Linked DNA regions of Homo sapiens: region 1 is linked to region 2. Evidence: fine-mapped expression QTL. A gene starts in region 2. The other region holds a variant in brackets. All regions are shown on one strand. Distances are between the middles of the regions.

Region 1 (5,375 bases), 250 kb before region 2:
TGGAACCTGTGATCATGTTACTTTACATGACAAAAGAGACTTAGCAAATGGGACTAAGTTAAGGATTTCAGAATTGGGAGATTATTCTGGACTATCTGGGTAGCCCAATGTGATCACAAGGATCCTAATAAGAGAAGCAGGAGGGTCAGAGAAGGAGGTGTGAGGATGGAAGCCAGGGCTAGGGTGGGGAGAGGGAGAGAGACATGACAATGTTAACCTGCTGGCTCTGAAGATGGAGGGAGGGGCCATGAGCCAACCAATGCTGGTGGCCAGTAGAAGCTAGAAAAGGCAAGAAACAGATTTTCCCCTGGATCCTCCAGAAAGGGGCACTGAACAGCCAACACCTGGATTTTTAGCCTTGTGAAACTCATTTTGGATTTCTGACCTCCAGAATTTATAAACTCACGTTGTTTTAAGCCACAAAATGTGTAGTTCTTTTTTAATAGCAGCAATGGGAAATGAACACAAATGCATTCTGTCATTCTGGTTCTTGATCTTCTCTTTCTCTGTCTCCGCATTCTTGTGGGGCGTCTGTCTCCAGCGTCCTAAGGTTGCATGATGATGTGCCTTGGTGGGGCACTTGGTGGGCCCTTTCAATGTGGACACTCATCTTCTAGTTGCCAGATTCCTCCCCCTCTGTCCCCATCCATCTTTGGGCTTCCTCTGTTCTCTTTTTCTGAAACTCTTATTATTTGGATACTGAGACTCATGGACCAGTCCTTTCAGGTTCTGAACTTTTCTCCTTTATTTTCCAACTCTTTCTCTTTCTGTCTACCTTCTGCCCTTTTATCTTCTAAAGCTTCTTTTGAGCTTTTCATTCCAGCAATCATGATTTTAATTCCCAAGAATTCTTTTTGGTTCTCTTGATGTTTATTTCTATTACATTCTGCTGTGTTTCATGGTTGCAATATCTTTTTTTATCTTCCTGGGGATATTAATGACTTTTCTAAAAAAAAAAATGCTTCCTGTGAAAAGCTCTTCTCCAAATTGCCATTCTCTGTTTGTCTATATCCTGGGCCACATCCGTCTCCATTCTAGTCCCACCTTTCGTGTTAGAGATTTTCCTCTCATCGTCTCCACACACCCAGGAGTGGGATACTAACACACGTATTGGAAACTGCAGGCGTGACTGGCCTGCCAACCTGGAGCTTGGCAGGAGCGTGCTGTGCTGGGTCATCTCACTGGGGTAGTCCCTGTGCTATCCCTCAAATTCCATCCAGAAAGATCCTCCAGTTTGTGGCCTCAGGGTGAAAACGTCCAAAAACTGATTAGGAAAGATGGCTAGAGACTTCAGCATCCAAAATACATATAATCTTTTACTTAGATGTGTTGGGATGACAACGCTGACCTCAGCTGTGCTGCTGCTGCTCCCGGTGCAAAAGACTCACTTTTTATCCTCTCCCCAAAATAAATCTCTCGTCTTCTGCTAGGTTGGGAGAAGAACAATCACCAAAAATGCAGAGTGGGGAGCGGGCCTGAGTGTTGGACCTCTCCTTAAACAAACCTTCCTGCAGCCTCCAGGTCACCATCCTTGTCACCTCTACTGCCAGAGACATCGAGTGCCTTGAAGTCCTGGGCTTTCCGGGGATTCTGTGGGGTAAGTCTGGCTGAGCTTCATCTTTCTCCATTGCCAGCTCAGGGCTTGGTCTTCCTGGGGCTGCCAGGTGTGTCATTTCCATGCTCCCTCTGCGTTCCAGCTTCCAGGACTGTGCTGCCGTGCTTCCTCTCCTTTAAAGCAAGTCTTCTATCATCACCAGCGAGGGGCCATGGAAGGAGCAGACTAGACTGCTCAATCTGCTGTCTCCACCTGGCGGACCTACCATGTGATTCACTTACAGACAGTTGGTTTGTTTTTGTTTTTTGTTTCTCTTTTTGACACTGAGTTTCGCTCTTGTTGCCCAAGCCGGAGTGCAGTGGCTCGATCTCGGCTCACCACAACCTCTACCTCCCGGGTTCAAGTGATTCTCCTGCCTCAGCCACCCGAGTAGGTGGGATTACAGGAACCCACCACCACACCTGGCTGATTTTCTACTTTTAGTAAAGATGGGGTTTCTCTATGTTGATCAGGCTGGTCTGAAACTACCGACTTCAGGACCGCCTGCCTCGGCCTTCCAAAGTGCGGGGATTACTGGCATGAGCCACTGCCCCTGGTCAAGAATTGGTTTTTAATGCTTCCTTCCTCCATACAACAGAATTCTTTTCAATAATGATCATTAAACAAAAGGAATAATAATAATGTCCAGAAAAGAACTGCTGTAGATAGTGAAAATTTTTTTATTGAACTTTGTATA[T/A]GTAATCATGCTGGCACATATGTTAAAAAAAGGTAAAAAGTCATGGATTAATTTTTTTAATCATAATTTTTAAAGGGGATTATTTTACTGCAGTTCACACACTGTTTCATTGTTTTACATTTTAAACAGAAATAGCTGGGCGGATCACCTGAGGCCAGGAGTTTGAGACTAGCCTGGCCAACATGGTGAAACCCCGTCTCTATGAAAAATACAAAAATTAGCCAGGCGTGGTGGCACATATCTGTAGTCCCAGCTACTTGGGAGGCTGAGGAGAAGAATCGCTTGAACCGGGGAGGCAGAGGTTGCAATGAGCTGAGATCGCACCACTGCACTCCAGCCTGGGTGACAGAGTGAGACTCCAGCTCAAATAAATAAATAAATAAATAAAAATTTTAAACAGAAATAAAAACTTCAAGTTACCTATAAAAGAATAACAGAACTGAAGTAATTCAAGTTCTGTTTCTTCCCCTGCAGAATCACTGTTAGCATTGTTTATTTTGAATCTACTGCTTAAAAGCAGGAACGTGTTGTGTGCAGACCATTGACAGGTTGGAAATAGGAGTTCAGAGAGTGCTTACGTGATTCCACACTTACAAGGAATGTATGTAGCTGAATCTGCCAGCACTGGGGGCCAACCTTGTAACTGGGAGTTCTCTGAATTAACTTCCATTAGCATGCATTCTTGATTAAAAGGTAAGTAATAAACATGCGCTAACTCAAAGTGTGCACATACACACTGAAAATGTAGCATGTTTTATTACATATTGATTTTATATATTTTCTTAAGTATACATTTATTCTATATATAAATGTGAAATACATACATAATGTGAGTATATATGTGTGTGTATGTTTACATATATATATATAAAATGTCTCCATTGTCAATGCCTCCTCATCCTTGAATCTAGGGAAACTGTTTCCACTGCACTGCCCTTAGGACATATGTCACATTCTGGAAATTCTAAAAAAATATTTTTAATGAAAAATTCTTTGACCACCCACTGTCCTCCAGATAAAAGCAGGAAGCTTTTATCTGTGTTCTCTTAATATACATATTTAACGGAGTCCTCTTCTGGGTCATGTTGGCTCACTGTCACCAGGTCAGGCAAGTCCATGTTACCAGCACCTTCGGTTTAATGCTGAAATCAAAAGCCCTCCTCTGATTAAGTTCAGGAGCAGCTTCCGCTCCCATCCAGCTCCGTGAGAGTGGATGATTTCCCTGGCCATATGGCAGGTGGAGGGAGTGATTAACCCCCTGTGAGGCCTCTGTGTTCCTTGGCTCTGCCGGCTCCTCCCTCCTCGAGCAGCCCGAGGCCCACCTGTGAATCTCGAGCATCTGCCGGCAGGCCCAGCCTGGTCATCAGCAGCTCTATGGCTGCTGTGTGTCTGTATTTGTATTACTGTATTTTATAAGACAGCTGCCCCCTTACTTTTCTGCCTCAGCTTTTGAACTTTCCTTTGCACGTTGTCACCAGTGATAAAGCTGATGCTGTCTCTAAGGGCGGGTGAAGCTGACAGCCCTTTTTCACCTGGCTTCATCCAAGGCCCATCCACAGTCCTGGGCCTGAGTGAGCAAGGGACCCTTGCTTTTTTCTTTTTTAAATGTGGATATGCAACTAAATGTTTTATTTTCTACACTGTCCTGGAAGAAGCAATAGGTCAGCCAGACCAGAGGCCCTCTTGAATATATAGCCTCTAGTTAACCGTCTTACAGAAAACTCAAACTCTTTCCCTTCATCATATCATCTTTTTCTCCTACAACTTTTATTTTAACAAACTTCAAATACACCCCAAATGTTAAAAGAATAATACAATGAAAAACGATATAACCTGTCAATTCACCAACTGTTAACATTCTATCACATTTTGTTTTAGAATTTTCTCTCTTCATATACACACACATACACACATATACATTTTAAAACATCATTTGAAATTAAATTTCAGTCATCATATTCTACCTGTAAATACATCAACATGTATTTCTTAAGAGATATTCTCCTGCACAAAACTCAGCAAATTTAACATTATTGATACACAGCATTGCTTAATATATAGTTTATATTCAAATTTCCCCAATTGTACCAACAGCATTCTTTACAGATTTATTTGATCAATAACCTAATCAAAGATGGCTTTCATTTGCTGTGCTTCTTCATCTCCTTTAAGCTAGAATAGTTCCCCTTCATTTATGTGCACCTGTGTATGTGTTTTGTGACATTAATATTTTTAGAGCCCAGGCTAGTTGATTTCCAGAATGTCCTGGATTTGAGTTTTCCTGAAGCTTATTTGTGATTAAATTTGGGTTCTTGAAAAGAATACCAGAGAAGTGATCCTCTGCCCCCAGTGTAACTCAACAGGTGGGACATGATGCCTCTTTGCTCCTTTATTGCCCAAATTAGGATTGCTCTGGCTGGGCACGTTGGCTCACACCTGTAATCCCAGCACTTTGGGAGGCCGAGGCAGGCAGATCACTTGAGGTCAGGAGTTCGAGACCAGCCCGGCCAATATAGTGAAACCCTGTCTTTACTAAAAATACAAAAATTAGTCGGGTGGGGTGGCACACGTCTGTAATCCTATCTAGTCAGGAGGCTGAGGCAAGAGAATCACTTGAACCTGGGAGGCGGAGGTTGCAGTGAGCTGAGATCACGCCAATGTACTCCAGCCTGGGCGACAGACCAAGACTCCGTCTCAAAAAAAAAAAAAAAAAAGAAATAGGATTGATCACTTCATTAAGGTATCAGTAGAGGTAGAGATGCAAAGAGCCCTCCCTCTTTGCAAGAAACCAGGCTTTTAAATCCTTTCTTGCATTGTAGTTTCTATCCAAGTGCTGTGCACATAGTAACTGACAGTCAAAATAGAAGAAAAGCAAATATCTGTTGGGCTTTCTCTTTTTTTTTTTTTTGGAGATGGAATCTCGCTCTGCCACCCAGGCTTGAGTGCAGTGGTGCGATCTTGGCTCAGTGCAAGCTCTGCCTCCCAGGTTCACACCATTCTCCTGCCTCAGCCTCCCGAGTAGCTGGGGCTACAGGCACCCACCACCACGCCCAGCTAATTTTTTGTATTTTCAGTGGAGATGGG
Region 2 (5,375 bases):
GAAGGCTGCATAACTCAGGAAATTTACCATGAATTTGCATTGAATTATATTTTCGCAAGGGGTAAACTCTAAAAAACTATAGCCCAATAAAGTTTTTTTTTTTTTTTTTGAAAAACCACAAAAACAAATGTAATTGGGCTCAGCCATCCCTCAGATACCTCTACCCAGAAGCCCCCTGCCAAGGGCCTCTCTCTTTGCTTCTCAGAGAAGCAAAGAGAAAGGGTCAAGACAGGGAGGGGAAACAGCAGAGGAGGGGCATCCGGCCTGAACAACTCCATCAGGCAGAACAGGAAAGCCGTCTAGGACCCATGCCCTGACCCCAAGTCCAGGGCAGATTTATCCAGACTCCTCATTCCTTCTACAGCCTACAGCACATGCAGTCTCATCGTTGGGGGTGGTACTGATAATAGCAAAGATGCATCCAGTCTGGAGTGCCCTTGAAAGCCTCTCAACTGTCTGACATCCTAGGGACGGCAGGATGCCCTGCACAGTACTCTCACACATGCTAAGGCTGAAAAGGCACAAAAGGAGCATCTCCACGAGGCTCCTGGGCATTCACACAATTCCGCTACTGACGTTATCTACCAGATCGCAGCTGGAAATGCAGAGTAAGGCAGGGGTAGAAATCTAGCCTTGCTTATGCGCAGAGCTTACTCCACTCTCCTAGCATTAAGTCTTGCTAACTTATTTATTTATTTATTTTTGAAACAGAGTTTCACTCTTTTCGCCCAGGCTGGAGTGCAGTGGTGTGATCTCAGCTCACTGCAACCTATGCCTCCTGGGTTGAAGTGATTCTCCTGCCTTAGCCTCCCAAGTAGCTGGGACTACAAGCACGCACCACCATGCACAGCTAATTTTTTGTATTTTTAGCAGAGACGGGGTTTCACCCTGTTGACCAGGCTGGTTTCAAACTCCTGACCTCAGGTGATCCGCCCACCTCGGCCTCCCAAAGTGCTGGGATTACAGGTGTGAGCCACCACATGTTTACTAATAAACAAGACCATTCCTAACAAAGGGCATGGTGCACATTAGGTACAATAAATGTTTGCTGATTGACTCTAAAACTTTATTTATCAGATCCCTCCTCCCCCATGCACCTTTCCTTTGAAAAGTTACTGGGAAACACTGGGCTTCCTGCTTCCTGTCTTTTTGAGTTGGAGTATTCCAGATTAGAGACCCCTACATTCTCTGGGGTGCTTATGGAGTCGGGGCTTATCCTCAGCTTAGGGTCTAGTCTTTCCAAGTTACATGCAGTAAGTTAAAGAGACCTGTGTCATGGCTCTGTAAACCTGTCTCCTCAGAACCCTGGATCAAGCTGTGCTCAAAGGCAAGAATGCCATCGATTCATCTGCTCCCAGCTCCCAAAGCCAGGCCACCAGGCACACAATGGGCTCTCTGCAAAACTATCTGCTGAGTCCAGGGCCTTGAATGAAATTACCTTTCCATGCCATCTCCAATGAGCTCCTCTCCATCCTCTTCTTCCTCCAGGGGCCCCTCTGTGCCTAGGAGCCCCTCGGACTCATCCTCAAATGGTGGAAGGTCACGGCCAGGGCTGGAGGTGAGGGCATCAGTACGCCGGGAGCTTCGGCCAGGGCTGGAGGTGAGAGGATCATTGCCTCGCCGACGCTGGGCCGGGCTGGATGCCATGGTGAAGGATTCCGATGATTCCTGCAAGAGAAGGTGCGGTTGTCAGAAACCTAGGAAGCTGGTGAGGCATGATACAGCTTCCTTTTTACCATCAGGGGCCTTCCCTTCTTTCTCTCCACCTGTGACTCTTGTCCTCCAACACACCAAACCCCTTCCAGCCTCCAGATCTTTGCCCTTGCTGTTCTCTCACCTGGAATGCTCTCAGCTGAGCAATCTGAGTCAGTGGCTTCCAAACAAATAGAAGCCAGCTCAAATATCGGGGTCACCCACATCACCGTGCTTTCTCCATGAAAAACCACTGAGGTTATGTCATTTGCCTATTTACCTGTTTACTGTCTATTATCTCCCCTTAAGCATTAGACCTATTTCAGCACACACAGTGCGCAAGGTATTGTGATAGAGATGGCATAGAAGAGCCACCAAAACAAGAGGTCTGGAACTCAGATGTGGAACAGACAGTATACAAGACAAAGGGACAAGAAGGTAATACAAAAGTAAGTGTAGTGTTTGGAACAAGGATCATTGGGAAATTAAAAAAAAAAAAAGTTTAAAGGAGTGTAGTGAAATGGGGGCCTGTCTTTTGTACGCTCAGCGCCACACAGATGGCGCCCAATAAGTATGTGTGGGGTGAATAAAGGACAGAGGCTGAACGGGCCGAGCTCGCCTTAGGGAGCCCAGGGCCCCAGGTCAGTGGTAGGTAGGCGAGTCGCCTCACGCAGGGTGCAGGCGAGAAAGTAGCTGCGCCCCAGAGCCTGGGGCCCAGCCTCACCCAGAGCGCCGCCCTGGGCCGGGGCCAGAGTACGGGAAGCGCGCAGCCTCCGCACCCATGTCCCCGGCGCCCGCCCGCCACGCGCCAGCGCGCTCACCGCCATAGCAGTACCACGATCCTCTCCGCCACTACAGCAACAACCAGGTTTCGCGCGAAAAGTGGTTCACGTGACCCACCAAAGCCCGGGAAGAGCCCTACGGAACGCGACGTCATGACGTCGGCGTCCACTGGCGACCAGAAGGGACACGGAGGGGCGGGCCAGAGGGTCCGGTCCCGCCTACAACGCCCGAGGCGCTCCGCCCAGAGCCCGGAGGTGTGCGGCCCGGCGCTGTGCGCGTGCGCTCGCCTGCGCTGTGGTGGGAGCTGGAGCGGAGGTAGAAGCTGAGGCTCCAGGGGACCCGACGACACTTGCTGGCTGCGTGACCTCGGTCACACCAGGGCCATTTTGCTGACAAGACAACAGAGGCCGGGCGCGGTGGCTCACGCCTGTAATCCCAGCACTTTGGGAAGCCGAGGTGGGCGGATCACAAGCTCAGGAGTTCGAGACCAGCCTGACTAACATGGTGAAACCCAGTCTTTACTAAAAATACAAAAATTAGTTGGGCATGGTGGCACGGGCCTGTAATCCCAGCTACTCGGGAGGCTGAGGCAGAAGAATCGCTTGAACCTGGGAGGTGGAGGTTGCGGTGAGCCGAGATCCCGCCACTGCACTCCAGCCTGGGTGACAGAGTGAGACTCCGTCTCAAAAAAAAAAAAAGACAGCAGAGGTTCAGAGCCTGGTTTTCTGACGCTTCTTACCGTCTTAGGAGCACAATGGTTTAACTTCTCCCAAAGCTCAAAGGCTCAATACTTCAAGCAGCTGGACAACTCTGGGATTTTGTAGGAGGTCACATCTGAGGCTTTAGTAGGAGTTATCTTTGCCCAGGGGAGCGAAGACGCAGGGAGGATGTTACAGATAGAAGGATGCCATGTGCAAAGCTGCAGAGGTCATGGCAGGGCCCGGATGTGCAAGCCCCTCCCTAAGAACTAACCCTAGGAGCTTATGATGCCGGGCAACAGACAAGACTTGAGGGAGAGAAAATCCGGATCAAAAAAGAGCTAGATGTTTTTCTAGAGAGTTTGACTATTCTGTATTCTGAAAGCAATGGAAGGCCATGGAAGCATTTTGAGCAGGGTGAGACGTGAACTAGTGTGGGTTTTAGAATCCCTCTGGCTGCTACCAGGTGGAAGTGGATTGAACGAGGTTGAAGGCAGCAAACGAGGAGGTTGCTGTGGTTCTTGTCTAGTTCCAGGCAGCCTTAGTGAGCAGAGGCAGGGCTGAATCGCAACCCTCTTAGCCAGGCACTTTGTGCAGTGAACAAGCATCTCTGCCTGGGACCCAGGGTAGGGAGGCAGGAGTGATGGAGAGAACTGGAAATACAAGATGTTTAGGAGGTGGAATCTTTTTTTTTTTTTTGAGACAGAGTCACTCTGTCACCCAGGCTGGAGTGCAGTGGTGCAACCTCAGCTCACTGCAACCTCCACCTCCCAAGTTCAAGCGATTCTCGTGCCTTAGCCTCCCGAGTAGCTGGGATTAGAGATGCACGCCATTGTGCCCGGTTAATTTTTGTATTTTTAGTAGAGATGGGATTTCACCATTGTTAGCTAGGCTGGTCTCCAACTCCTGACAAGTGGATCCGCCTGCCTTGGCCTCCCATAGTGCTAGGATTACAGGCGTGAGCCACCACGCCCGGCCAGGAAGTGGGGTCTATAGGTGTTGGTGATTGAGGACAGCAAAAGAGGCATGCAGGATGACACCAGGATCCTGGCTTAGCTAGGTGGATGATAGCTGAGATAGGAGCGCACAGGAAGACCAGCAATTTAAGGGGGAAGAAGATGAGTTTGTTTCTGGCTGTGCTGAATTTGGGCCGAGGGGACATATCCAGGAAGCTGTTGGATATCCATGTATGGGACTCAAGGGCGTGTTTGGACTGAAGCTGTAGATTGCCTTGGGAGTGGTTGTATAATCCAGAGTGAGTGCAGGGAGATGAGAAGGTCTAAGCCTGGGACCTGGGAAACCCCAACAGTTAAGAGACACCAACAAAGGATGTGAAGGATGCACCTCGGATGCTAGGAGCTGCTGACAGGAAAGCTGAAGAGACTCTGCATGGGCTTGTGTTATCTATTGCTGCATAAAAAATTATCCTGGGATGGCCAGGCATGGTGGCTCACACCTGTAATCCCAGCACTTTGGGAGGCTGAGGCAGGTGGATCACCTGAGGTCAGGAGTTCAAGACCAGCCTGACCAACATGGAGAAACCCTGTCTCTATTAAAAATCCAAAATTAGCCAGGCGTAGTGGCGCATGCCTGTAATCCCAACTACTCAGGAGGCTGAGGCAGGAGAATCACTTGAACACTGGAGGTGGAGGTTGCGGTGAGCCGAAATTGTGCCATTGCACTCCAGCCTGGGCAAAAAGAGCGAAACTCTATCTCAAAAAAAAAAAAATTATCCTGGGATTTAGCACCTTGAAGCAATTAGCACCCACTGTCTCGGTGTCTGTGGATCAGGGATCTGGACACGATGCCACTGGGTGCCTCTTCTTCAAGGTCTTTCAAGGCTGCAGGCAAGGTATTGGCCAGGGCTGCTGTCTCCTCTGAAGGCTCATCTTCAGGAGGATCCCCTTCCAAGCTTCTTCACATGATAGGATTCAGGTCCTCATAGGCTGTTGGACTGAAGACTTAGTTTCCCACTGGCTCTTGGGTGGGGGCCTCTCTACAGAGCAGCTTACAACCTGGCAGCTGGTTTCTTTCAGAGCAAGCGAACAAGAGAGAGAGGCCATACAAGACAGATGCCATGTCTTGGAAGTGATATTCCTTTACTTTTGCCATATTCTCTTAGCGAGAAGTGAGTCCTGAGGTCCGGCCCACACTGAAGGAGAGGAGATCCTAGCAGGGCTGGGGATTATCAGGAGCCCTCCC

Alleles and levels. Alleles are on the strand shown, and positions count from the first base shown. SD is a standard deviation of normalised expression in the study named.
For the expression in subcutaneous fat of the gene that starts at base 2,575 in region 2, A is the high allele of the variant in region 1 and T is the other (large effect, 1.7 SD a copy in TwinsUK).

The links. PIP is the estimated chance that this variant, and not a neighbour inherited with it, causes the effect.
Region 1: its variant is the best candidate, but not a certain one, in a credible set for the expression of MCM2 in subcutaneous fat (TwinsUK, PIP 0.56).

What each region holds. Positions count from the first base shown.
Region 1 is chr3:127,850,291-127,855,665 of GRCh38, reverse strand. It overlaps LOC107986129 (a long non-coding RNA gene), which reads left to right. Exons shown (of 5, transcript XR_001740896.2): 4 at 1,431-1,597. The region is part of intron 1 of LOC105374096 (a long non-coding RNA gene); the gene reads right to left. Among named protein-coding and RNA genes, the nearest start is that of MGLL, 30 kb to the right of the region's middle. The variant T/A (reference allele first, on the strand shown) is at 2,292.
Region 2 is chr3:127,595,611-127,600,985 of GRCh38, reverse strand. MCM2 (minichromosome maintenance complex component 2) reads right to left here and starts at 2,575. Exons shown (of 16, transcript NM_004526.4): 1 at 2,514-2,575; 2 at 1,439-1,668. The coding sequence starts at 2,519. It also overlaps a transcript of TPRA1 not described here. RefSeq lists a silencer at 2,277-2,436 and enhancers at 2,467-2,586, 1,940-2,897.